3 linked regions of the Homo sapiens genome follow. The protein of the gene in region 3 purifies or fractionates together with the protein of the main gene of each other region. This does not show direct contact. Each region holds a gene or a part of one and is shown on either strand. Other genes may lie near its edges.

Evidence for each region.
Region 1: the proteins of POGLUT1 (region 3) and CSGALNACT2 purify together in Homo sapiens (affinity purification with mass spectrometry; 4 studies listed by BioGRID and IntAct, with this or other methods). This does not show direct contact.
Region 2: the proteins of POGLUT1 (region 3) and ZZEF1 purify together in Homo sapiens (affinity purification with mass spectrometry; 3 studies listed by BioGRID and IntAct, with this or other methods). This does not show direct contact.

The regions. Positions count from the first base shown.
Region 1 is NC_000010.11:43,176,173-43,183,444, forward strand, and holds part of CSGALNACT2 (chondroitin sulfate N-acetylgalactosaminyltransferase 2), read left to right. Parts: intron 1-7,077; coding exon 7,078-7,272. UniProt on the Homo sapiens protein: Transfers 1,4-N-acetylgalactosamine (GalNAc) from UDP-GalNAc to the non-reducing end of glucuronic acid (GlcUA). Required for addition of the first GalNAc to the core tetrasaccharide linker and for elongation of chondroitin chains.
Region 2 is NC_000017.11:4,014,031-4,021,302, forward strand, and holds part of ZZEF1 (zinc finger ZZ-type and EF-hand domain-containing protein 1), read right to left. Parts: coding exon 7,099-7,272; intron 5,740-7,098; coding exon 5,639-5,739; intron 3,942-5,638; coding exon 3,806-3,941; intron 3,701-3,805; coding exon 3,341-3,700; intron 2,745-3,340; exon of another isoform or gene 2,603-2,744; intron 2,437-2,602; coding exon 2,293-2,436; intron 486-2,292; coding exon 317-485; intron 159-316; coding exon 60-158; intron 1-59. UniProt on the Homo sapiens protein: Histone H3 reader which may act as a transcriptional coactivator for KLF6 and KLF9 transcription factors.
Region 3 is NC_000003.12:119,464,540-119,472,132, reverse strand, and holds the start of POGLUT1 (protein O-glucosyltransferase 1 precursor), read right to left. Parts: upstream 3,171-7,593; 5' UTR 3,112-3,170; coding exon 3,027-3,111; intron 2,314-3,026; coding exon 2,223-2,313; intron 825-2,222; coding exon 681-824; intron 1-680. UniProt on the Homo sapiens protein: Dual specificity glycosyltransferase that catalyzes the transfer of glucose and xylose from UDP-glucose and UDP-xylose, respectively, to a serine residue found in the consensus sequence of C-X-S-X-P-C.

The DNA.
Region 1 (7,272 bases), on a different chromosome or scaffold from region 3:
AAAGGCAAAATAAGTTTATAATTAATGTTTTGAATAGGAAAAAAATGGTCATAAAAATAAAGTATAATATTTACTTGTTCCTTTAAAATCAAAACACCTGTTTTTAAAAATATCTGTTTAACTTGTTACCCATAGTTGCAGGTGTTTAGAGTAGTCTTACAAAAGCTTTCTCTATAACTTTACTGTTGTGCCCATGGGTTGTTACAGCTGGGAGTAATCTTGGTTATCTAGACCAAGGACTTTCACATTTTTTTGAGATGAAACCTCCTTTACTTGTCTAGTGAACTGTTACACAAAATCCCAGTATTTAATACAAATGAAAGAAGACCTGCTCTTTCTAGCGCGTCTTGGAATCACACCTTAGTCATGCATTCCCCTAAGCCTAAAGATGGCCCATGAATAATTTGTTCTAACTATCCTGCATGCTCTGTTGTCCAGGCTGAAGAGCAGTGGCACAATCTTGGCTCACTGCAGCCTCTGCCTCCCAGGCTCAAGCGATCCTCCTACCTCAATCCCCAAGTAGCTGTGACCACAGGCGTGCACCACCACACCCAGTTAATTTTTTTGTTTGTTTTGTAGAGGCGGAGCTTCATTATATTGCCTAGGCTGGTCTTGAACTCCTGGGTTCAAGCAATCTGCCCACCTTGGCCTCCCAAAGTGCTGGGATTGCAGGCGTGAGCCACCATGCCCAGCCCCTAGCTTCAGTCTTACCCAGCAAAATATAAAGTGTCAAAGAATAGTTTAATAAAGCAGGCTGAAACCTGATTCCATGTCTTCTGATTCATTTAGGGCTAGCTACCTTTCTACAGCATAGAAGTCATAGAATATATTTTATATACATTCTAGGTCCATATCACATTCGTTTTTATAACCAGCCTTTTGTTTTGGAAATCCCCCCACCTTGTCTCCTTATCATTGTAACACTTGAATAATGGAAAATCAGGAAATAACAATAAAAGGGGCGTTAAATTAAACTGATGCTCTTTTCCTTGATTTCTTGCTTAGTTAAGCAAGCAGCATTTCACTATTCCTCAAAAATAGATTTGTGTACATTTTTTCAGTATCTTGAATGCTTTGAGTTCCTTATCTCTTTTTTATGACAATTTTATTGAGATATAGTTTACATATCATAAAATTTATTAATTTAAAGTGTACGGTTAACCAGGTCATGTAGCTATCACCACCATCAAATTTAGAGCATTTCACCCCAAAAAGAAATCCCATACCCATTAACAATCACTCCTCACATCCTACCAACCCTCTTTCCCCCCAAACTTAGGCATCTACTGGTCTACTTCCTATAGATTTGCCTCTTCTGGGAATTTAATAGAAAGCAAATTGTACAATATGTGGCCTTTTATGACTGGCTTCTTTCACTCACATAATGTTTTCAAAGTTCATCCATGTTGTGACATGTTAGGTACTTCATTCCTTTTTATAGCCAAAAAATGTTCTATTGTGTGGTTATACCACATTTTGTTTCTCCATTTGTCAGTTTATATGCATTTGAGTTGTTTCTACTTTTTGGCTATTATAAATACTGCTGCTGTGAACATTTGTGTTTAACTTTTTGGGTGGACATAGATTTTCAATTCTCTTGGACATATGCCCAGGACTCTGGCTGGGTCATATGGTAATCCTGTGTTTGACCTTTTGAGAAATTGCCACACCGTTTTCCAAAGTGGCTGCATCATTTTACATTCCCACCAGCAGTGTTTAGGAGTTCCAGTTTCCCCACATCCTCATTAATACATGTTATTATCTTTTTGTTTCTAGTATCACCCATGATAGTGGATGTGGTATTGATTGTGACTCTGATTATAATTTTTCTTATGATTAATGTTGTTGAGCATCTCTTGATGTGTTTATTGGCCATTTGTATATCTTTAGTGAAATGTCTGTTCAGATCCTTTGCCCATTTTAATTGGGTTATGGAGTTTCTTGGGCTTCTTGAATATGTACATTAATGTTTTTCATCAAATTTGGGAAGTTTCAGCCATTATAGTCATCTCTCAGTACCTGCATGGGATTGGATCCAGGATACCATGTGGAACCAAAATCCATGGTCGATCAAGTCCCTTATGTAAATATACATATTTTCATATTACCTGTGCATATCTGCCCATATACTTTAAACCATCTCTAGATTGCTTATAATACCTAATACAGGCCAGGCACGGTGGCTCACGCCTGTAATCCCAGCACTTTGGGAGGCCGAGGCGGGCAGATCACGAGGTCAGGAGATCAAGATCATCCTGGCTAACAAGGTAAAACCCTGTCTCTACTAAAAATACAAAAATTAGCCAGGCGTGGTGGCAGGCGCCTGTAGTCCCAGCTACTTGGGAGGCTGAGGCAGGAGAATGGCATGAACCTGGGAGGCGGAGTTTGCAGTGAGCCGAGATTGCACCACTGCACTCCAGCCTGGGCAACAGAGTGAGACTCCATCAAAAAAAAAAAAAAAAAACCCTAATACAATGTAAATACTATGTAAATAGTTGTTATATTGTATTTAAATTTTTATATTTATTGTTATTTTTTATCGTTTTTTTCCCTAATATTTTTGAACCATGTTGGTTGATTCTATGGGATGTGGAACTCATGCATATGGAGGGCTGACTGTATTTCTTTGAATACTTTTTCTGCTCCATTCTCATAGTTTTCTCCTTTGACACTCACTGTATGTATGTTGGTACATTTAATGGTATCCCACATTTTTCTTAGGCTCTGTTTATTTCTCTTCATTCTTTTCTCCCTCTGTTCTTCAGATTGCATAATTTCTATTGATCTATCCAAGTTCTCTGATTGTTTTTTCTGTTAGATCTACTGTTGAGCTACTCTAATGAATTTTTATTTCAGTTACTATAGTTTTTAACTTCAGAATTTCTATGTGGTTCTTTTGATATATATATAATTTCTTTATTAATACTCTATGTGATGAAACATTGTCATCTTCTGTTACTTCCTTAAGTGTGACTTCTTTTAATTCTTTGAACATACTTACAATGGCTGCTTTGGAATTTTTGTGTATTAAAGCTAATGTCTGGGCCCTAACACAGGCAGTTTTTGTTGCTTGCCGGTTTTTTTTTTTTTTTTAAGCGTATGTCACATCTTCTTGTTTCTTTGCATTCCTCATTATTTCTTTTTCGAAAACTAGACATTTTAGGTAATACACTGTGGCAACTCTGGATACTGATTTCCCTCTACCACCACGGCTTGGTTTTTTTTTTTCCTTGTTTATTTATTTATTGACATGGCTGGACTATTTTAACAAATTATTTCTTCCTCCTTCCCCGACCTTTTGGCAATATGAAGCCTCTGCTGTTGCTCCTCAGGGCCTGTGCAGTTATCCTAGGATGGCATTGGATTTAGCAGGGCTCTCTTTATCTCTTTCCATGCCTCCATTGGTATCACTCCTATTAGACTCCACTGACTGTTCACTAATTGCTGTCTTGTTTTTGACAATGCTCTGGGGCATAAATTGCTCCATAATCTGTCCCTACTAAATTGGGCCCTTTTGCAGGGATAGTTTTTGCAGCAAGTCTTTGAGATTTGTTCAGACCCCAGGAGGTATATTCTTACTATCTCTCTCTGTGGTTCTCTCTAGTAAATTAGCTGGCCTACAGTTTAGCTGTTGCCCTCCTGGAGTTACCAGCCTCCTCTTAATTGCTTACTACCAAAATCTCCATTATTTTCAAGAGGCTGGAACTTCTCTAAACTCTGAACTTCTCTACATTCTATTTTAAATAAAGTCAGTTCCTTAGGGAAGAACTTTGGAGCACTTTGTTCTTATGGACTTCCTCTCCCCCGGGGGAAAAAATCCATGAGGTTTTGCCCTGAGGATGGGGACAGTGACACACTTATTAAGCAGAGTGACCACCTCTGCCCTATGAGCAGGACACTGGGTAGGGGCAGGAGGACCCCCAGTATTCTCAGCTGGCCACACCTGGAAGTGGAGCCTCCACCCTGTTGCTGTGGGCTGGGTGAAAAAGAGCTGCACCTGTTTAGAACTTAGACTCTTTATTTGGAGCTTCTGTTCCCTTGTTTCCTTTCTTCCTGGTATTCCCATTATACATATGTTACATCTTTTGTAGTTGTCCCACCGTTCTTAGATATTTTGTTCATTTTATTTTCAGTCTTTTTTTTTCTTTGATTTTCTGTTTTGGAAATTTTTATTGTCATATCCTCAAGCTCAGAGATTGTTTCTTAAGCTAAGTCCGGTCTACTAATGAACCCATCTAAGGCATTCATTTATTTCGCAGTGTTTTTGATCTCTAGCATTTTTTTAAATTCCTTAGATCCATCTCACTGCTTATGTTCCGCATCTTGTGTGTTATCTGCTCTTTCCATTAGAGCCCTTAGAGTATTATACATAGTTGTTTTAAATTCCCAGCCTGATAATTCCAACATCCCTGCTGTATCTGAATCTGGATCTGGTACATGCTCTGTCTGTTCATACTGTGTTTTTCTTAACTTTTAGTATACCTTGTCATGTTTTCTGTTGAAAGTTGGACTTGATATACTGCGTAAAAGGAACTGCAATAAATAGGCCTTTGATGATGTGGTGGTGAAGTGTGGAGGGAGCGGAAGTGTTCTGTAGTCCCATAAGTAAGTCTCAATCTCTTAGTGATCCTGTATCCCAGACTCTGAATTTCACACATGCTTCTCAGTCTCCCCTCCTCTCCTGGACAGGATGACTAGAAGGGGCTCTAGTTGGGTAGATTTCTTCCTCCAAGTCAGTTAGGCACTGATAAAACCCCAGCAGGTTAGGCTCTGGTTAAATAACTTCTCCTAAGGACAGGCTTTGTTAATAATGACAACATGCTGTGGCATACTTTAAAATGATTACCTTTTCCCCTTCCCCACTGCTGGACGCATTAAGAGATTTTTCTCTGATCTTCACCACTGAGGACCTAATAGAGCTCCTAGAGGTAAAACTCACATGAGTATGGGGGTCCCAATATGACCAGGTCCCCCTGGAGTTTTTAACACTCAGACTTACCTCCCCTGAGCCTCCAGCAATTTGTCGATTACAGTTAGGGTTTTCCTACCTGGGTACTGGTCCCCACAGAGATTTCTGCTCCAGTAAGTTGGAATTCTTTGTATCTGCCTATCTGTCTCACCAGTTTTGAGGGCAGTGGTTTACCCTGTGACCTCACTTCTCTGTGAGAGACCTAAGAGGAGTTGTTGCTTTTTCAGTGTTCAGCTTTTGACTTGTTAGGATGGAGTGATGACTTCTAGCTCCAGGCATGCCAGACCAGAAACTGAGAATGCCCCATTTGTTTTAAGTATATGTACCATCTCTAATATTCTAAGAGCTTATATCTACAAGGAAGAAAAGCTGATATGTATCAGACATAGCATTTAGTAAAGCTCTGATTGTTTAATACTTTTCAGAGATCCCCAGATTATTGTCCATCCTGTTAATGTGAAATTAAGTGGGATAGAATTATTTGACAGGAGCCGGGCATGGTGGCTCGAACTTGTGGTCCCACTTACTAAGGAGGCTAAGGCAGAAGGATCACTTGAGCCCAGGAGATGGAGGCTGCAGTGAGCTATGATTGCACCTCTGCACTCCAGCCTGGGCAACAGAGTGAGAACACATCTCTGAAAAATAAAAATTATTTGACAGGCCAGGCACGGTGGCTCACGCCTGTAATCCCAGCACTTTGGGAGGCCGAAGTGAGTGGATCATCTGAGGTCAGGAGTTCAAGCTTACGAAGATGACGGGATTAAGAGATTAAAGTAAAGACAGGCAATCACAAGGGTATTGATTGGGGAAGTGATAAATGTCCATGAAATCTTCACAATTTATGTTCAGAGATTGCAGTAAAGACAGGAGTAAGAAATTATAAAAGTATTAATTTGGGGAACTAATAAATGTCCATGAAATCTTCACAATTTATGTTCTTCTGCCATGGCTTCAGCCAGTCCCTCCATTCGGGGTCCCTGACTTCCTGCAGCAGCCCACTCCAGTTAGCCTTCTGCCCCATCACTCTATCAGAATTGTTCTGGGGAAGTTTATAAGTAACATTTATGCTGCCAGGTCCAGTCAGTTCTTCTTAAATTCTTCACTGAATAGCACACACTTGACAACTTCTTCCTCAAGACACTTTCTTCACGTGGCTACTACAATGGCACCTTTTCCAGAATTTTCTCCCTCACCTGGGGCCACTTCTCAATCTCATTTCCTGACTTAACTTTCTTTACCTCTATTTAACCTCTAGAAATTGGCATTTCTTAGTGTTTAGACCTAGGCCCTGTTTTCCTTCCAAATTCCTTCAGTAATTTCATTCATTCCTGTAGCTTTAAATAATCTATGGACCCATTCTCAAATTTATATCTCCAGCTTGGCCCTTTCTTCTTTTTCCACTCTGGGGAGTTTTTCTATAGCCCAGAAAAGCGTGTGTCTCAAAGGACAGAAAATGTGGCTGGTCGCAGTGGCTAATGCCTGCAATCCAGCACTTTGGGAAGCCAAGTGGGCGGAACACTTGAACCCAAAGTTCGAGACCAGCCTGGGCAACATGGTGATACCCCATCTCCACCAAAAAAAAAAAAAAAGCTGAGTATGGTGACATGCGCCTGTGGTCCCAGCTACTCGGGGCTGAGATGGGAGGATCGCCTGAGCCACGGAGGTCGATGCTGCAGTGAGCCATGATCACACCACTGCACTCCAGCCTGGGTGACAGAGTGAGACCCTGTCTCAAAAAAAAAAACAAAAAAAAAAAGAAAACATAAAAAGTTAATGGTGGTGAGATTATAGGTGACTTGTATTTTCTTCTCCTTTATTTGACTTTTTGTAGATTTTCTACAGGACTTTGAAATTTACAAAGTGTTCTTAAATATTTAACCCCATTTTGATACTGTCAACAACCAACCTTGAGCTCCTTGAGTCCAAGTGTCAGCTCAAAACTGGACTTCCGGTGACTGGGAGTCACTCCTCCATGCCAGGTGTCTCGTGCTACCTTTTTGCTGAACCATCCCATCCCTTTTGAAGCAGAACATTTAAAATTTTATATATATCCCTGTGCTCTGGCTAATAATAGGCAGTTATTTATAGTGTCAATTTTGATCTTACAGGTGGATTTGACATGGAAGTGAAAGGTTGGGGTGGAGAAGATGTTCATCTTTATCGAAAATACTTACATGGTGACCTCATTGTGATTCGGACTCCGGTTCCTGGTCTTTTCCACCTCTGGCATGAAAAGCGCTGTGCTGATGAGCTGACCCCCGAGCAGTACCGCATGTGCATCCAGTCTAAAGCCATGAATGAGG
Region 2 (7,272 bases), on a different chromosome or scaffold from region 3:
ACAGCCATGGAGTGTCCCTGGCAGGCAGATGGTGTGAACGCAAAGCCCAGAGCACACACCTGTCTGGAACCGCCCCAGGTGTCCGGCCGTCACGGTGAATCTGTAGCCCCACTCGGTGTTGCTCATGTCGGAGGTGAAGCGGTAATACAGAGTGTCTCCTAGGCACACAAGGATCAGAGGCCCATCAGGAACTGAAGCAACAGGGAATGGCAGCAGTGGTGTTGGGTTTCAACATTCTCCAGTAAGTTCCCTTCTCAATATTAAGTTTAAACACTGCCTGTGAAGAACCTATCTAATCGAGTATTTGTTTCACTACCTGGAAGTTCAAAATCTTTCCACTTCTGCTGAGACCCGCTGAAGCTGTGTCGGTCTTGCTGGAAGTCACTGCTGCTGGACATGGCTAACTCGTCACAGCCCTCCTCTGTGTTGCACTGAGAGTCGAATTTGATTGAGAGGTAGATGGCACCAGGAATGTGAACTTTATCCTAGGGAGGGGAAATGGAGAACACATCTGTCGATGCTGCTCACTAGACACTGACTGCAGCTGTCCCATGCCGAGTCCTGTGGCTGGACCCGGGTGTGTGAGAATGAGTGAACCACAGCCCTGGCCTCCAGGAGTGCAGAGTCCAGCTAGGGCGAGGAGCATGCACAGACTGCAAATATGGTGCGAGGGAGGCACAGCGGGGCAGGCAACACGGGGCCCCAGAGAAAGAGTGTCAGGCTGCTGTGAAGAGTGAAGAGGACAGGAGGACCCTGTTAGGAGAAGGCGGGAGTGGGAGACAAGGTGGACCTGAGTGCATGGGGTGCATTTCAGACAGGGTAACAGCCCTGTGAAGGTCTAGCATGTTCAGGGAATGGCAAGGAGCTTGGCGTGTTTGGAGTAAAGGGTGTGCTACATGGGCACGTATGCTTGGGAAGCAGGAACAGGGACAAGACCTGACTCCAGAGAGACTGGCAGGGGCAGACACTGAAGGCCCTGGGCATGAAAATGAGGCACTCAGACTCTGGACAACAGGGAAAACCCTGGAAAGCTTTGGTGAGGCTTGCACAGTGTAGCATCACTGACAGCTGGTGTGGAGCAAGGCTGGGCTGAGGCAAAAGTGAGGAAATCAGAAAGTAGCAGCAAAAGGAACCCCAGAGAAGGGCAACGGGTGTCCAGGGTCAGTGGAGAAGACAAGACCTCTTTGGGATCGAACCTGGTGGCTGACCACATGTGCCTGTATGGGACCAAGGGAGTGGGGCTGGAGCCCAGGAACATGACAAGAGAAGAGACTTGGAAGAAAGACAGGTTATACTTCTGAAAAACAAAATCTCAGCTGGCCAATAACCCAGTTCTAAATCGGTTTTCATCATCCACCTTCGCTGCTGCAGGTGCCTTCCACTCAGAAGTAGATGCCTGGGCAACTCCAACATTTCAGTTTTCTCTCCAACATTTTTAAAAGCGCTAATGGGGGCCAGGTGAGGTGGCTCACGCCTGTAATCCCAGCACTCTGGGAGGCCAAGGCGGGTGGATCACCTGAGGTCAGGAGTTAGAGACCAGCCTGGCCAATATGGTGAAACCCCGTCTCTACTAAAAATACAAAAATTAGCTGGGCATGGTGGCAGGTGCCTTTATTCCTGCTACTAGGGAGGCTGAGGCATGAGAATCACTTGAATTCGGGAGGTGGAGGTTGCAGTGAGCCGAGATCACACCACTGCACTGCAGCCTGGGCGACAGAGTGAGACTCCGTCTCAAAAAAAAGTGCTAAAGGGACTACATGGCCTTAAGTCAATGAGAATAACGGAGGCTGCCCCATTCCTGCCTCATCAAAATGCCTACCTCCCTGCCCAGGCACAAAGTTAAGGATGGAAAAGATGAGACTCTGATTCAGTTCTGGGAAATTTTAAAAAGGGGCTGTAGTATCCACGGTGGGGGCAGGTCATGAGGTGGCAGCTGAAGAGTGAGGGTCCAACCTGGACCACATTCAGACTCACTGTCTCACTGTGAAGCCAAGGACTCACTCTGAGGAGCCTGCCGCAGGGAAAGTAAAGCTCTCCTCCAGGGCTAGGTGGCCCATTTTCTTCTATTAAAACAAGAAAAGTCCGGAGAAGAGAAGACTTGCTTGTACAGAATCCCTGGCCTCAGGGAGGCAGACTGCAGTTTGTTCAAGGAAGCACTTTCCTGGACAGGTCTCTGCTGTCCAGCGGGAGAGAGCCACAGAGGGGCTGAGCATGGAGGGGCTGAGCACGGAGGGGCTGACGAGGTCTCTGCGGCTCAGTCGCTCTTATGGGGCCTGCCGGCCCCAGGCTTACCTCGAAGTTGGTGTTGTTGTTATACGGGTGTTTCGACTCCCTCACTTGCACCTCCATTCCTGGCTCCTCCATGAACTGGCATGCAGCCAGGGCCATGGTCCCCAGCATGTCCTCTCGGCAGCCCTGGAGCACTTTCTGCAGGATCTGGTGGGAAGCAGACAGATAAGGTCAGGGCCTGCAAGTGGCATCAGGAAGAAGGGACAGTTTACTTCAACCCAAGCTCCACCCAAAGGTGCTGGCATCATCTTAGACCTAGGACGAGCCTCTGTGACTCCACCACCCAAAACCAACTCCACCAGCCACCTCTCACTTGACCAGGCTCTTGGTGTCAATCAGGACACTGCAGTCCTTTCAGAATGATGCTACTTAGAGGTGGTCTGAAAGAACTAACTGAACCAATCATAAAGGGTCCTGGTCCTTGAAGGAGTCCCCAGCCAAGCAGGTGGATTGGCCTATGGATAAATAATGACCACACAATGTAATCGATGCCTGGAGTGAGGTGCAGGGTTGGGAGCTCTAGGTGGCAAGAACTGTGGGAGGACACGCCTATGCAAGGGCCTAGTAGAGGCAGGGTGGCTCCCTCTGTCCCTTCCGAAAGATAGATATGCTAGAGCAAGCCTGCCAGCACCTGCAGGGCTGCAAGGCCGGGAAAAGACCTCGAGGTCTGGTGGTGTTCTCAGATGGACAAAGCAAGGCTGAGAGGCCAAATGAACTTCCTCATGGACTGCGTGTGTGTGTGTGAAGGTGGGTGAGGGACAGGATCAAAAAGGAGCTACCGAATGTGCCTCAAGATTTCTGCACTTGGAAACTGGGAAGATGGCGACAAAGCTTTCTGGTTCAGCTGGAAATCGCGCTCAGGGCCCCTGAGTTCCTCACTAGCCCAATCCTTGGGAGAGGATACAGTGACCCTACCTTTGCTGCATTCACACCTGTCAGGGAGCTGCACAGCCACACAGGTAGCCTCGCTCCAGGAAGCACTCACTGGAGGAAGCCTGTGGGGCAGAGGAAGAACCTGGTGGGTGAGCACAAGCTCAGTCTGCATAACTACCTTCTCCCACTCATGCTTTTCTTCCAGCTGCATGAACATATCCAAAATGTAGGTCATATGGGCAGGGCCACTGAGCTCCAGGATGTCCTCGCTCACTGGCACGTGGCTAGGCCACTCGGCGAGCAGGGATGCAAGCACGTGGCGGGCGTACAGGACAGCTGTGGCCTCGTTCACTCGGAAGAGGTAGTCCCGGACAGCCCTCTTACTCTTGCAGTTCAGCTCCTTGTGCAGGAGGGCGGCGCTCTTGCTACGGCGCTGCTTGGCATAGCTCTGCTGCAGTTCGCTCTCTGTGCTGGAGATCAGCTTCTGGGTCACAGGGTTCGATTCAGCAGTGGCTTGGTCACAGCGTGCAGGCCGGGACTGCAAACCCAAGACCACCATTACAGAGGTCTAGCCTTCTTACAGTGGTGGTATGGGGTGGGGGATGGGGTGCAGATACTTTGGGTCCGAGGTCGGGTGACATACCAAGCATGGCAGGATAATCATGTCTGTATCCACAGCTTTGGCGCTCTGTTCTTCCAGCCTCAGACTCTTACTGGGCTGCCACCGCTGAGCCAGGGACCGTATCCTTTCATCTGTGGTGAGCTCATCACCATCAAACCTGCAGAAGGGCAGCACAAAGTTGAGTACCAACAGTGTAGACAGGCCAGTTTTAACCTGCACTTAAACTTGTTGGCAATGTTCTTCAGAGTTGTTCTTCTGTTAGTATCAATGACATTATCATATTCCGTGTTTTGCCAACTGGATTCACAGCCTTCACTTATGCATGGATACAGAATGCATGTATGCTCTGTGGCAGGAGATGCAAACTCTCCTGCAAAATCCATTCTCCTTTTCTATCTTTTCCATTTTTAAAATTAATTTAAATGTTTTATTTTCATTAAAAAAACATTTTTAAAAAAAATTTATTTGTTTTTTTTAGAGATGACGTGTTGGAGCTATGTTGCCCGGGCCGGCCTGGAACTCCTGGGCTCAAGCGATCCTCCTGCCTGCCTCAGCCTCCCTAGTAGCTGCGATTACAGGCTCATACCACCATGCCTGGACTCCCCTTCTCTCCTTTTTTTTTTAAATTTAACAGAGTTTAAATGAGCAAAGAGTGATCCCCGAATTGGGCAGCTCCTGAATCAGAATGGGTTCAGAGTGACTCCACTGCTGTGGTTGGAGGTTTACGAACAGAAAAAGGAAACTGACACACAGAAAACAGAAGTGAGGTACAGAAACAGCTGGAATGGTTACAGCCTGGTGTTTGCCTTATTTGAACGCAGTCTGAACAGGTGGACGACTCTGGCCGAAACTCGGTGGCCCTTCTCTCTCTCTAAAGCTCCCTGAGTTTTAGCAAGAGCCACAGTCACCCAGCTAGAGACATGGTTAGCAGCTAGATGTGCTGATGCCCCTGGGTTCTGGGCAGTGCAGGTGAGCGAGGTGGTGTGCCACCTCTGGAGTCTACTGGACTAATGGTGCACTCCCTTCTCCACCTCCCCTCTTTCCTCTGGGCTAGAACCGAGAGGTGGGGTGGCCGAGGGAGCTTTCACTCCACAAATGAGAACGCTGGGATTGCTGGGTCCCTCTGTGGAGCAGAGCTGTCACCCACCCCAGACTCTGCCTACCTCTGGACTGTTATGTGAGAGAAAAACAAATTCTATCTGCCCTGATCCATTATATTTCTGGTTTCTTAGTTACCGCAGCTTAGACTGTACCCTAACTAATGCAACCCTGCTTCACCTCATAAAGGCTTTTAGGCAATATATAAGAAACTAATAAAAGAGAAACACGAAACACAAAATAAAAGAAAAATTAAATGAGAATTTACAATGAGTAAGAAGTCAAAATTAGGATACGGGGGATGGAGGAGACTGGATTGCAGATATGTAAAGTTCTACGCAAATTAAAAAGTTGGGCCCAAAAACTAGCTCTGAACTTCCTGGCCAAGAGAAAGGGAATGTTCTTAATTTTAAAAATATCTTGAGCAGAAGTTCCTGCTCTGTGCTGTCTGCTCCCTGGGATTACACATGAGAGACATCTTGGTGCCTGCCCAATTTCTGTGTCTGTAAAATGAGTTTCCTCTCAGAGGCCGACTACAAACATAAGTTTTAAAGAGGAACCACAGTGCACTTTGAAGATGATCCAGGTAACGTAGCACAGGCCACCTCCCACCTCGCCTTACAAAGGACTAGCAACTGCTTCCCGGCCTGTCGGAGCGTCGATCGATCCAGAAGCTGCTGCCAGGAGGCGCACACCCTCCCGCCCTCACATATTCTCTCCCTGGCCACACTTCAGCTGCACGGAAATGTCCCTTACCTCTTCTGAACCTCCAGGAAGAAATAATCGGTCTTTTTCATCTGCAGTTCGTATATGGCCCGGAGAATGTGCAGAGGGGCATTGAGGGCATCATGAGCCATCTGGAGGCCAGGGGAGGACGCAGACAAGAACCATTAACAGTGCTTCAATACGGTATTGATCAACTGAACTCAAAACTGAGAAGACAATATAGCAAAAGCTGCCACAGGTTATAATTGAGGAACATTATATGGGTAGTTTAAAAAGCATATAAAATTGTAAGCACCAAAACATGGACTATAACACCTACACTACGACTGTAACTTCAAAGGAAATTATAAAACACTAAAACCCCAAAGAAATATCCTGTCAACAAAATACAATGCTGACAGTAGATACTTACCACATCGTATTCACGGCTAGCGTCTCTATAACTGTTTTACACTCAAGTTTGACAACTAGCGCATACATAGGCACTGTATTTTCTTTTGATTTTTTTTGACACAGGGTCTCACTTGGTTGCCCAGGCTGGAGTGCAGTGGTGTGATCATAGCTCATACCACTGAGTACCCAAAAGCGTAGAAAGGCAAGAGGAGTTTTAACCTGCACTTAAACTTGTCAGCAATGTTGATCAAAGTAGTTTTTCTGTTAGTATCAATGACATCATCATTTTCTGTATTTTGCCAACTGGATTCATAGCTTTTACTTATTCATGGATACAGAATTGCATGTATGCTCTGTGCCAGGGGATGCAAACTCTCCTGCAAAATCTGTAAACTTGAACTCCTGGCCTCAAGTGATCCTCCTGCCTCAGCCTCCTGGGTAGCCAGGACTACAGGCGCATGCCACACCTGGCTAGTCTTATTTTTTGTAGAGGCAGGGTCTTGCTAAGTTACCCAGGGTGGTCTTGAACTCCTGGCCTCAAGTGATCCTCCTGCCTCAGCCTCCCAAAGTGCTGGGATTACTAGTGTGAGCCACTGTGCCTGGCTGGGATTTGCTTTTTCTGACATTCTACGCTACATTCTGTTTACTCTTCATTTAGTCACAACTTCTGAAGTCCAAGCCCTCATCCTTTTCATATTGTTCTGAGGAAGAATAGATTACCTAGTAAAGGTAAGAGTGTATTTCTGAGAAACTATGAGGAAGGAACTATCGTATAGAGTTCATGGACGAGCCTTAGGGCTTTAGTAAGCCCTTGAAATTCGTGCAAAATTTTACATACATGTTTGAATGTGTATTTTATGGGGAGAGAGGACCTAAAGCTTTTGAGTTTATAACCCAAAATATTAAGAACTATTGTTGTGGGGCTTTTCTGTTCTTCTGGATCAATTCTGCACAACATAAGACTGAGTCTTTAGGAAGTGAATTCTCAGGACAGCAGACAGAAGCATTTTCATGTTTAGGCTAAAACATGGCCCGGGCCAAAGAGAAGCCATCCCTCAGAAGCCCCTCCTAAGCCACAAGATGACTCAAGAACACACCAAGAAACATATTCTGGTGGGCTCATCCAGGCCCTCAAGGGGGTCCAGCTTTTTCTGCTCTGGGTCGCCAGGGCTGCTGACTGGCCGTTCCACCTCTTCCTCTCGGTCCCCTCGCTCATCCAGCTCTAGGTCTCCGTGCTCAGCCAAAGCGTTGATCTCCTTTTTTGAGGAGTA
Region 3 (7,593 bases):
CATGACCCTCCCTGCTTACCACCCTGCCTTCAGCCCACTGACATGGTACCTCAGGTCTCACACCTGAAGTTCTGAAGTCCTGGCTAGTGTAATTTGCAGCACTAGTTACTCCTCTTTATTTATTTATTTTTTAATAGACAGGGTCTCACTCTGTTGTATTATTTGCCACTGCCGGATTATTTGCCATAATCCAACTCCTGGGCTCAAGTAATCCACCACAAAGTGCTGGGATCACAGGTGTGAGCCACCACCACCCCATCTAGTTACTCCTCTTGACTCTACCACCTCCCCTTGAATATTCAGTATCTAGAACTACACTGGCCGATGACAGACATTCAACCAATTCCTCTTCCTCCTTCAGCCTAGCTCCCTCCTGCTAGGCCTGCTAGGCCTCATCAGCCTGTGTCCTGCCGCTACTATATCCCAGGGAAGGAGCAGAAGAGGCAGAGCCACCACCAGTACAACCAGTGATGAACCAAGCCTCACAGAGGAGACAGGCTTTGAGAGGAGCTCGCAAGAAAAATTCCCAGGCAAGGAGAAGAGCTCGTCACTATTTCATAGTCCGCCTGAAATGTGAGGAGGGATCTGCTTGTTAGTCCCATGAATTGGCTCCTCTATAAAAGGGTATCAAGCCCATATGTAATAAAGTCAGAAGATATATCTACCTCGTTAACTCTTACCTTGAGGGGAACATGCAGTCATTTTCCCGGTACAGTCTGTTCTTAGTGATCTGATAGTGGGTCCCTAGCTTCCGTCTGACTACCTCTGCCATCATCTTCCTGGAGATGCCTCCTCGGAAAGGAGTTAGATCCTCTTCTATGACACTGGGAAAGAATGGGAGTCATCAAGGAAAGCAGGCCAAGAGAGTGGTGCCATTCCACCTACTTCCTAAGTGCATTTAGGTTTCGTATTAGAGAACACAGTAAGTGGAAGGAAAGAATCGAGAGTGAGAATGAGCAGCTCTTCCCTAGAAGCCCTGTAGGTAATCTGAAACATCAAATGCAATAAAGCAATAAAAAGTAAAAAGCGGGTCAATGTCTCTTCTTCCTCCTTCCATCTGGATTGCCCCTCCCTTGGCAGTTCTGTATTTCTCTTTCGCTACTCATGCCACACCTGTGTCCTTCTAGTCACTTCAGTCCTCCTGGCATCTCCTCCCAATCCCACAGGAGGTGAAGTTTACGCCTTACAGTCTAGCACTGACTCTCTTGTTCTGGTCTGTCTGGTCCACACTCTCCCCCACAAGCCCTTACTCTGGTAGCGTGACAGCAGTAACCAAAATTACACTATTTTGTATTCCTTTTAAAGTGAGTGCATAGTAAGTTTTCAATAAGTATCATAAGCATCCAAGGAATTTTTTGAGGAGTCAAAAATAACATAAAAAGGAGCTTAAAAGACCCTGTTATTTAGCTGATGAAGAATCTGAGACCCAGAGGAGTTGAAGTGGCTCGGCACAGGGGTAACCAGTGGGAGTACCGGCACCAACACCCAAGTCTGTTTTCAGAGTTATCTTTCTACCATACCTCATCCCGGCCCTGATGTGCATTCTCTCTCTTTTTTGAGACGGAGTCTCACTCTGTCACCCAGGCTGGGGTGCAGTGGCATGATCTGGATTCAATGCAACCTCTGCTTCCCGGGTTCAAGCGATTCTCCTGCCTCAGCCTCCCGAGTAGCTGGGATTACAGGCACGTGCCATCATGCCCAGCTAATTTTTGTATTTTTAGTAGAGACAGGGTTTCACCATGTTGGCCAGGCTGGTCTCGAAATTCTGACCTCAGGTGATCCACCTGCCTTGGCCTCTCAAAGTGCTGGGATTACAGGCATGAACCACCATGCCCAGCCTGATGTGCATTTTCTAAAGATAACCATCAGGAAATTTAGGACTAGATTCAGCGATAGATGGGTTTATTTCCTCAACAATATTTATCGAGCACGCACTGACAGCTAGCACCAGGGAGACAACAGCAAATAAGACACAGACCCTGACCTCAGGAAGCTTGCAGCCCAGTGGGAAAAACAGATGCACATGCACTGAATCCCGCAGTGAGTCAGTGGTTAGGTTGACACCACCTGAGCCTTTCCCATGCGAGAGCATTTTTATTCCCCAGAAATAGAAAAACATCCTTGCCTTTCTGACCACTGCAACCAAAATCTCTCAAGGATGTTAGAATACTTCCTGTGACAGCAACTAAACTCTCAAAGACACATCAAAGAAAAGAACTCACCCATGGTAGCAGCTGCAGTTTTGACTTGAACATGGTTCGTAATTCTCCAAAGACCTGTTAATTTGGTCAATAAATACTTTCCATTTTGAACCTTTAAAAAGTGAAGTAAATGAGAGTTAAAAAAATTTTCCTGAATGTTATTTGCTGACACCACACCAACAGAAGAAACAGAAGACCAAAACTTTCAGAAATCCCCTTCCCATCCCACTGATGGAAACGAAACGCTAGGGAGGAATTTTTGTGTGTGCAACTCCCACGCTCACGTCAAGTCTGTTCCTCTATCCGGCTGTCAGGTGTCCAAGAAACTGGAAAATTCCCAAGCTTAATGCTCAACCCTCAGAATGCTATGGATAGTGACGCGGACTCTCACTTTCTACTAATCAAATTGAACTCCACAAAGAGGATCAGTTAAAAGCTACAGACATTAAACCCCTCTTCTCTTCTGGCAACGCATATACACACACGCTCGCGCGCACGACATTTGCCCCCATCCCCGACCCCTCAGTGTTTCAGGCAGGTCCAGAGTAGCCAAGCACGGGCCACGCCTCCTGCGGGTGAACGGGGAATTCCCTCTCCTCCCTGTCATTCTGAATTCCGGGGAATGGGTTACTCTCCAGGGTCCAGAGCAGGAGCAGAGACCCCGGCACCTCACTCTCCGCCGCAAGGCGCCCCGGTGCCTTCTGCCCAGCTCCGAGCTACAGCGGCCACGGCATCTTCCCGGGAGCCGGCCGCGCGGGGGAGCGCCTCGGGACTCCGGCCAGACCCCGAGCCCAAGGGGCAGGCTCGGCACTGCCCGGAGCCCACCTGACTCCTTCTGGCGGCCCTGCGCTGAGGGCAGGAGGAACAACAGCAGCCAGAGCCGAAGCGGCGAGCTAGCCCACCACTCCATCGCCGGCAGACCTACTGCAGATTCCCCGCTGCGGCGCTGGCGGAAGCGCGGCCCCGCACAAAGATGGCCCGGGAGCCGCAGCACGTGGGCGGCGGGTCGCCCCGCACAAAGATGGCCACCGTGGCCCCACCACCCTTCCTCCAGTCCCCAGCCTTGAGGCGGAGTTTCCCTGAGAAGGCTGCGCCGGGAAGGTGGGGAGGATAAACGAATGGACCAGTTGCCTATCCTCCCTCCCTGGCACCCCTGGGAAAATAGGTCTGCAGCCAGAAAACTGAAGGTCAGAGAGGGTATGTTTCACGGTTAGTGGCACAACCAAGACTTGGCATAGAGCCTAGGCCAAACAGTTCTTCTCTTGACGTCAAATTGCCTCTTATCAAATAGCATAAATTTGTTGAGCATGTGTGTGTGTGTGTGTGTGTGTGTGTGTGTGTGTGTACAGCACGGTTAGACCCCAAAGGTTGCAATTAGCATAGCAGGGATCCCTTTGTAATAGGAATTTATAACAGTTGGGGTGACTTAGACGTAGGAAAAAAGATCAATGGTGTTAAATAAAGTTTATGGGAGGTCGTTGTTTTGGACAGAACTCTGGCACTAGGCCTCAAGAGAGCAGACAAAACCAGAATGGAGGCAACTTGTCCTAGGTGCTGCGTAATTAAACTCAGCTTTAAAAGGGGTCAGTTTTCCAACAAATAGGAGAAGGGGCCCATATACCTGAGCTGGCATGATAAAGAAGTCCCCTCTGATGTAACTCTTTGAGGAAAGTAACTTCAAAATGACCAATCTGCTTTTTGTTCCTTATTTCTGCTTTCTTCAGCCCTTTTCTGCCTATAAGCCCAACCCCTTCTGCTCAGCTCATTAGAACACTTTTCTGTTTTATAGATGAGATGCTGCCTGATTCATGAATCACTAATAAAAGCCAATTCGATTTTTTTTTTTTTTTGAGACAGAGGACAGTCTAACTCTGTTGCCCAGCCTGGAGTGCAGTGGCACAATCTTGGCTCACTATGACGTCTGCCTCCCGGGTTCAAGCAATTCTTCTGTCTCAGTCTCCCGAGTAGCTGGGATTACAGGAGTGTGTCACCATGCCCGGGTAATTTTTGTATTTTTAGTAAAGACAGGGTTTCACCGTGTTGGCCAGGTTGGTCTCAAACTCCTGACCTCAGGTGATCTGCCCACCTCGGCCTCCCAAAGTGCTGGGATTACAGGCGTGAGCCACCATGCCTGGCCAAGAACTTTAAACTAAATTTGATGAAATTTTGTTTCTTGACAGTGGGCAACATGATACTGGACAATATAGGTATATAGTATAGTACAGGTATATATCTTTATACAGGTATATATAGGTCAGTGTAGATATATTTAGTAATCATAGAACTACAAATATTTATCTATTTTCTTTTTTTTTTTTTTTTTTGAGATGGAGTTTCGCTCTTGTTGCCCAGGCTGGAGTGCAATGGTTCAATATCGGCTCACCACAACCTCCGCCTCCTGGGTTCAAGCAATTCTCCTGCCTCAGCCTCCTGAGTAGGTGGATTACAGGCTTGCGCCACCACACCCGGCTAATTTTGTATTTTTAGTAGAGATGGGGTTTCTCCATATTTGTCAGGCTGGTCTCGAACTCCCGACCTCCGGTGATCCACCAGCCTCGACCTCCCAAAGTGCTGGGATTGCAGGCGTGAGCCACTGCGCCCAGCAATATTTATCTATTTTCTAAAATGTACATGGTTATATCCCTAAGCCTTGTGGAAATATGGAAATACAGGGAAGTACAAGATCAAATCTGTGCTCCCAGGAGTTTAGAACTAGTAGGGAAGACAAATATGCTTCCTTAGAGATAGTTTACAATTTAAGGCAATAGTTAAGTGCCACTGGTTTCAGTGGAGGAAAAGATCAATATGAAGTGGAAATCTGGAGAAAGGGGTAGGAGGGGTATATTTTGTACTGAAGAAAAGGAAACGTTACAGTTAAGGAATATTGTGCTGGAGTCACTAAAAATATGGGAGCCATAATTTGCAGAAGGTGGGGATCAAATTTAGCTTGACAGTAGTGGAGGCTTTAGGATGCACGTTAAGGAATGGTGGAAGAGAAAATAATGTTGATTACCTAGGAATGGGCCGTATCGGTCACATATTACACCCATATGGGCATTTGGTCTATATTCCACCAGGGCAGAACCACCCAGTTTTTGTATGAGTGAGGCTCACTTTGGGTGAACAGACAGGAAAAAAAATGTATATCCAAAACTATAGCATATTTCTTCTGGAATCCAAATGAAACTTTAGTCAAAAATTTTTCTACTTCCAGGAAGGTGTGCAGTACAGTCATGTGTTGTTTGACAATGGGAATATGTTTTGAGAAATGTGTCAGGCAATTTTGTTGTGTGAACATCATAGATTATACTTACACAAACCTAGCTAGTATAGCCTACTACATACTGAGGATATTTGGCATAGCCTATTGCTCCTAGGCTACAAACCTATTCAGCATGTTACTGTACTGAATATTACAGGCAATTGTAACACAATGGTAAGTATTGGTGTATCTAAACATTGAAAAGGTACAGTAAATGAGTAAAAATGATACACCTGTATAAGGCACTTACCATGAATGGAGCTTGCAGGACTGAAAGTTGCTCTGGATAAGTCAGTGAGTGGTGAGTAAATGTGAACACCTAGAACATTACGCTACTATAGATTTTATAAACACTGTACAGTTAGACCATACTAAACTTATAAACACGTTTTTCTTTCTTCAGTAATAAATTAGCTTATTGTAACTTTTTTACTGTACAAACCTTTTTTTTTCAACTTTTTGACTTTGTAATAACACTTAGCTTAAAACACAAGCACATTGTACAGCCATACAAAAATATTTTTTCTTTCTTTCTTTTCCTTCCTTCCTCCCTCCCTCCCTCCTTTCTTTTCTTTTCTTTTTTTTTTTTTGAGACAGTCTCGCTTTGTTGCCCAGGCTAGAGTGCAGTGGTGCTATCTCAGCTGACTGCAACCTCTGCCTCCCAGGTTCAAGCAATTCTCGTGCCTCAGCCTCCTGAGTAGCTGGCATTACAGGTGTACACCATAACACCTGGCTAATTTTTGTATTTTTAGTAGAGACAGGGTTTCGCCATGTTGGCCAGGCTGCTGTCAAACTCCTGGCCTCCCAAAGTGTGGGGATTATAGGCATGAGCCACTGCATCCGACCTATTTTCTTTATTTCTATCTTTATTCTATAAGCTTTTTTCTATTTCTAAAATGTTTTATTTTGTTTTTTACTTTTTAAACTATTTTATTGAAAACTAATATGCAAACACACACGTGTGTGTTTGGGTCAGGCCTATGCAGGGTCAGGATCATCAATATCACCATCTTTCACCTCCACATCTTGTCCCTCTGGAAGATCTTCAGGGTCAAGAACACACATGGAACTGCCATCTCCTAGGATAACAATGCCTTCTTCTGGAATACCTTCTGAAAGACCTGCCTGAGGTTGTTTTACAGTTAACTTTCATTTTTTTAAAATAAGTAGAAGGAGTACAATCTAAAATAACAATAAATGTATAGTATAGTAAATATATAAACCAGTAACAAAGTAATTTATTATCATTATTTAGTATGTTATACTGTACATAATTGTATGTGCTATACTTTTATACAACTGGTAGTGCAGGTTTGTGTACACCAGGATACATTGCACTACAACATAAAGACAGCTACATCATTAGGCAATAGGAGTTTTTCAGTTTTATTATACTCTCATGGGCTCACCATCATTTATGTGGTCTTTCATTGAAACATCATTATGGGACACATGACTGTATTTAAAAATGAAAAAAAAACCAGAATGGTTGTACGAGTACTGGAAGTACAGTTTCTACTGAATGAGTGTTGGTTTTGCACCATCATAAAGTTGAAAAATTGTGAGTCAAACCATCCTAAGTTGGAGACTTGTGTGTATTCCTAAGTGACAGCTCTGTGGTACATTAGGACATTAGGAATATTTGGGAATATTAGCAACTTTACTGGTTTCGATATCAGTCATTCTGGCTCTAAATTCTGGTTCTGGCTCTTATTAGCCAGGCTATTTTCTTTTTTTTCTATTATTATTATTATTATTTTTGAGACAGGGTCTCTCTCTGTTGCCCAGGCTGGAGTGCAGTGGCACAATCTCGGCTCACTGCAAACTTGACCTCCAGGGCTCAAGTGATCCTCCCACCTCAGCCTCCCAAGTAGCTGGGACTACAGGTGTGAGCCACCATGCCCGATTTATTTTTTTACTTTTTTCATAGAGACAAGGTTCCACTATATTGCTCAGGGTGGTCTCAAACTCTTGGGCTCAAGTGATCCTCCTGCCTTGGCCTCCCAGTGTTGGAATTACAGTCATGAGCCACCCTGCCTGGCCAGGCAGGCTATTTTCAACAAGCTACTTAACTTCTCTTAACTTCAGTTTCTTCTGTAAAATAATAACCATAGTAGAAGCTATCAAAAT